2 linked regions of the Homo sapiens genome follow. The protein of the gene in region 2 interacts with the protein of the main gene of each other region in a biochemical or structural test. Each region holds a gene or a part of one and is shown on either strand. Other genes may lie near its edges.

Region 1 (3,660 bases), on a different chromosome or scaffold from region 2:
CTAAAACTAAAATACATTTTAAAGTAAAAATCACATTTCCTAGTTGTCTGTGTCAGACAACTTTACTAGTATACTATAGTATTATTAACTACCTTAATTTTTGTTGACATTAAATTTTACTTGAAGATGATAAAAAAGTAGCAGCAATGACAGGGATAGCTAATACTAGAAATACAATAAAGCTCTGCGATAATGCACCTGAGACAAATGTAAATTTTGGTGAAATGTGACTGACGACTGCTTTCTGTCTTCTGGCCACTCTTATATTCTTAAACAGATACACTAAAATTATCTTGTGGAGGAAAGAAAAGGAACAAATGGCAACCCCATCTGGAAAACCAGGAAGTTAGGATGAGTACCTGAGTTTCCAGTATTTCCCTGCTCAATCTCCCTGGACTTGATGTTACAGGCACCACTAATCCCCAGATTTTTGGAATAGCTGCTGTTTTCCAGAAGTTCCAAGACCCAGAGTTGTCTCTATGAATTTTTAAGTGGGAAGAAACTACCACAGCCAGGCAGTGCCGTCCACACAGGGATATTCTAAGTGGCCCAGCAGGACTCAACTCTTACTGGCAACAGGCACTGATCTGCCATGGTCACTTCATCAAGTCCACAATAATGCAACTCTGAATTTTACACGATGGAATTTTTTGGACACTACCTATAATTTTATGGTATGGTTTTACTGTACCATTACTCCCAGTTCAAGACTGCACATCCACACTTATTATTGGGTATCTCCACATTTCTCTTGTTCTGGTCTTTGTCCAACACTCTATTCTCTTCTGAATGAAAGAAACTTTGGATTTAGTTTTCAAGATTTAGAAAACCCATTCTTTTTCAAAGATAGCATGACCATTATATAATACAACCGATACTTTGTAGAACACATCTATAAACTTGCACAGGAACAACAAAAGTATAATACTTATATAAGATCAGAAATGTCCATGTGTTCCTATGCTATATGGTATCATTTTTTTCAGTCACTTTTAAAATGAATTCACTGAACTGTATCATGATATCCCCATTATTAGGTTTTTAATCTAGCAGCCCAACTTACCCGGACAAGTGCATCATCTATGATATGGTCACGTCTAACTTTGAGTCTCAAATATGGATTCAACTGCTGTCCTTGAACTAAGCTGTAGAGAACAGTGATTCTTCGTTCACTGTACATGCGAATTCTATTGTCATAATATAATCCCAAATTCTTTGTGACAGCATTCAATATAAAGGGACATGTCATAAAAGAGAATTTGTTCTCTGTTTCTACTTTGAAAAAAGTATAATCTTTATCCATTTCTAGAACCTCATTCAGTGGTTCATTAATAAACTCTTCAAAAGGGATAAGTGGTTTTCGACAATCCAGGGTTTTAACACCAAGTTCAGTTTCCAGGGGGTCCACTCGAGGACCTTTCTTGTTTCTTCTTTCTTCTCCCAAAAGTTCCTGAAGTGTCAGCTCGCTGGACTCAGGGATGGGCTCTTCATCATCTTCTTCATTGTGATTTGTGTCCACTTCCCCTCCCACTACATTTGCATAGTAAACCATTTTCAAGCACTTCGAAGCAGCAACAATGGCATCATCATCATTCACTAGATTTCGACTGTTAAATTCATTGCTTATGACTTTATAAGTAATAAGTTGCTGAAATGTCTCCATCATTCTCCGAATCTGGTCTGCATTGTATTTAGACCACAGTCTGATCAGTTTTCCTTGGGCTGCAAGGGGTAGCTTGCTCATCGCTTTGCAAAATAATGGCAAAGCCATTTCCAGATATTCAGGACTGTGGAGATTTCTATTCTCCATTACGATAATGAACAAATTCAGATAATTAGGATCTCGAGAGTATACATTGTGATACGTCAAGTCACATTCCACGTTAGGTGACAAATATACAAGTGCATTGAGAAAGGCAGTTTCAATTTTTTCATTAGAGAGCAATCTGGTGTAGACCCTTCTAATGGCATCAATATCCACAGACACATCATCAGGGCCTAATTTTTGCAAATTGTTGTCTCCCTGTGAGCTATCACCTATCCTTGAGGAAGATGCTTCTGAGTCTTCTTCCATAGCAGCAGCAGAACATGCAGCTTTTTCCTTTTCATCTTCATCTTTGTCTTCATCTTTTGCTTGAAGAGATTTCAGTTCTTCCTTGGTGTGTTGTTTAACTTTCCGGAAGCTCTGTACCAATGCCTCAGCACTAGAAAAAACTCTTCCAATAACACGGATTAAAGGGGAATAATCCTCTCTTTCTCTACATAATTCAAGAATTTCATATACCTTCTCTTCTGTTAAGTAAGTCACATCTAGAAAATCAGAGGAAAAAAGAGAACATTTATTTTCATAATATGTATGTTTACTCTGTTGCAAAAAGTTCTAAAAGTAAAACAGCCAAACATTCTAGGCTCAATATCATTTATGATATACAACTCTTAAAGTATCTAATACTTAGATTCAGCAAACAAAATTTAATGCTTACCTATTTTTTTCAATGAACTACCTACCTATACCAATGACCTCACCCATGCTTTTACATTCTTTCAACAATGTATAACTCTTAATAAGATCATGAGTTTAAACTTTCTTTATAATCAAGATATCTATTAATGTATAGCTTTAATTATAAATATGAACCAATATGTCATGTACTGATTAATCATAATACAGCTCTTAAAACCTCACTGTAGAACACACAGAAATACTACTAATCTGTGAGTTTTCTTGTTTCAGTACTCTGTTCTCCAAAGACTAAGAAGGCAAGGTCTTAAAAAAAGGCTCCTTCAGCATCTATGTATGTATTAAAATCAAACTGGTTCATTTTGGGTCTTCCTAGTTTGTTCCAGGGTAGTCATTCTGTGAGTGATTGAGAAGAATATACCATTTCTCATCGGCTCTTAAGTAGAAACTGCTTTCCACAGCCAGGAATCAGGTTAGACTAAATCTCATAGAGTGACAGAAAATAGTTTTTGAGCAATGAAAACAAACAGTGCAAAGAAGTAAACTTATGAGCTGGCAAGCAGTGCAGAGACTATGTAGTCATCAAAATCTATTTCCTCTTTTCCTGGGCACAGAGTTGGACCACATTTCCCAACTTTTTGAGATAAGTGTTATTTTCAGGCCAAGGCTTTCTCCCTTCTGGCTAATAGGATGAAAGATATTTCATTTCACAGGTAAAAACAAATGATATATTTTGTGTACTGACCAACATAATACTGAGAATAGTCTTAATTCTCCCTTTTATCAATAAAGTGACATACTTGTCATCATCAGATTAACTACTTGAGAGGTTAATTTTAGAGGCACACAGACAATCCTACCTCCATTGCGCCAAATATACCCTTATACATGTAGTGTACAACATGTAGAATTTTTAATGACTCCCACCTCTGCTATAATATATGTTTCACAATGAAAGACAATATAAAATGTAAGTGATCATTGAATGGTCTCCAAAAATTGAAGCACAAAAATACCAAATTTTATCATACTAAGGATCTGATCTGTGGCCCAGCTACAAGAGTACCAACACTTACAGTTTCTTTTATGGGCCTTAACTCTTTAAGAACTAATTCTCAGGTTTGTTCTATTAAGAATATATAAGCATCTTTTGCTAAACATCAGTAACCTCTTCCCCAAAAGCATAAAACCACTGGAAA
Region 2 (2,339 bases):
GAAATTTCTTAACCTCAGTCAAGTGTTACTGGAAGCTGATGGCCCTGGCTTAGGTGTCAGGACCTTCTTCCACAGTGATAAGCTCTTTGGTGGCTGTGACAGTGCCCAGTTTCTCTGTGTGCTGAGCGTGACCACACTGCTCAGCGAAGCTCCCTCTGGCCTGTTTGTAGATCAGCACCTGCCACCAGCTCCTGCACCCCCAGGTCCTGCAGCTGCTTGTTAAGCTTTTTGAGACTGAGCACTCCCAGCTGGACGTGATGGAGCAGGTGAGCAGTGCCCGTGGGGCTTGCCAGAGGGCTGAGGAGGACCCTCTCTAACCAGCTCCCTGTCCCCCTTCTTCTGTAGCTTGAGTTGAAGAAGACACTGCTGGACAGGATGGTTCACCTGCTGAGTCGAGGTTATGTACTTCCTGTTGTCAGTTACATCCGAAAGTGTCTGGAGAAGCTGGACACTGACATTTCACTCATTCGCTATTTTGTCACTGAGGTCAGCAATGCACCGTTGGTTTCATGTTTCATACTGTTTACACTAGCACTGCCCTTTTTGGCTTAATTTAGTTCATTTTGTACCTAACTGAGAACTGTGCTTTCTGATGTAGTGATGACAATGACAGATACTCGTTTACCAAAAAGCACCTTCTGCCTGCAGCAGCTGTATGACACACTTTACCTCCATTACCACCCTGGGCATCTGAATGTTGGAGATGGGTGGTGTCACCGGCCGGTGGGGGTGGGGAGGGATTTTTTCCAAACTGATGGCCATTTCACCCGGATGTCGGTGGATGCCCCGCACTAGTGTGCGGAAGAAGTCACCCTGTGCTCCCCCACGCAGGTGCTGGACGTCATTGCTCCTCCTTATACCTCTGACTTCGTGCAACTTTTCCTCCCCATCCTGGAGAATGACAGCATCGCAGGTACCATCAAAACGGAAGGCGAGCATGACCCTGTGACGGAGTTTATAGGTGAGGCCGACTGCCTAGCCCTTTACTACAATAGAAAATGTCAGCTGGGCGCGGTGGCTCATGCCTGTAATCCCAGCACTTTGGGAGGCCAAGGTGGGTGGATCACCTGAGGTTGGGAGTTCAAGACCAGCCCGACCAACATGGAGAAACCCCATCTCTACTAAAAATACAGCATTAGCTGGGCATGGTGGCACGTGCCTGTAATCCTAGCTACTCGGGAGGCTGAGGCAGGAGAATCGCTTAACCTGGGAGGCAGAGGTTGCAGTGAGCCAAGATCGCGCCATTGCACTCTATCCTGGGCAACAAGAGCAAAACTGCATCTCAAAAAAAAAAAAAAAAAAGAAAGAAAATGTCATGTTCTACTTCCTGTTTCTAACACAGTCACTGTTTTCCTCGTTAAAGCTCACTGCAAATCTAACTTCATCATGGTGAACTAATTTAGAGCATCCTCCAGAGCTGAAGCAGAACATTCCAGAACCCGTTGTGGAAAAACCCTTTCAAGAAGCTGTTTTAAGAGGCTCGGGCAGCGTCTTGAAAATGGGCACCGCTGGGAGGAGGTGGATGACTTCTTTACAAAGGAAAATGGTAGCAGCTTCAGTGAGAAACTGCCCTTACAAACAGTCCCTTCTCTGCTGTCAATCCAATACTGCTCCCAAATCCTGTTTTCAGTGTTCATTTCCCTCAAGGCAGGCGCTGGGCTCCCACGACCCCTCAGGACAGATCTGGCCGTCAGCCGCGGGCCGCTGGGAACTCCACTCGGGGAACTCCTTTCCAAGCTGACCTCAGTTTTCTCACAAGAACCCAGTTAGCTGATGTTTTATTGTAATTGTCTTAATTTGCTAAGAACAAGTAATAAGTAAATTTTTAAAAAGCCTTTCTGCTGGGTTGGATTAAGTCCTGATGTGACATTGTTTTTGTGTGCGAATAAGGCACGGGCAGCCTCAGTCTCGTGCAGAGCCAGATACTTTATTCATCACTTGGGCGATTTGAAACTGCCAACTCCCTCCCTCCCTCCCCCACCCTTGATTCTAAAGTGACATAAGAATGGTGATAAGTCTGAACTCTTTCACCTCTTAAATGCCATATTATTGCCCACAGTTGCCAAATACAAAATATCAAGTCCTCTGCTGAAGAAGACTGAGGTCCCATCGTTTCCTGTGTCGCAGGTCACTTCTTCACCAGGTGGCTGACTGCATCATTGTGAGGCAGAGCCATGCTGTGCAAGTGTCATAAGTCATCCCACTTTCAACTCTCAGGAACACTCGCAGCCAGTGCCACGCTGTCCTCGCCATCCAATATTGATAGCCACCCCAGTTCCTGCCAGCCAGCCTGGCACACATAACCATAGGATCCCCTCTGGTCATGGGTCACCATGCCT

What was found. The genes of interacting proteins can lie anywhere in the genome.
Region 1: the proteins of NELFCD (region 2) and UBE3A form a complex in vitro, tested with the Homo sapiens proteins (one study listed by BioGRID).

The regions. Positions count from the first base shown.
Region 1 is NC_000015.10:25,369,503-25,373,162, forward strand, and holds part of UBE3A (ubiquitin-protein ligase E3A), read right to left. Parts: intron 2,311-3,660; coding exon 1,064-2,310; intron 1-1,063. UniProt on the Homo sapiens protein: E3 ubiquitin-protein ligase which accepts ubiquitin from an E2 ubiquitin-conjugating enzyme in the form of a thioester and transfers it to its substrates.
Region 2 is NC_000020.11:58,993,279-58,995,617, forward strand, and holds the end of NELFCD (negative elongation factor C/D), read left to right. Parts: intron 1-170; coding exon 171-266; intron 267-345; coding exon 346-486; intron 487-831; coding exon 832-961; intron 962-1,363; coding exon 1,364-1,398; 3' UTR 1,399-1,835; downstream 1,836-2,339. UniProt on the Homo sapiens protein: Essential component of the NELF complex, a complex that negatively regulates the elongation of transcription by RNA polymerase II.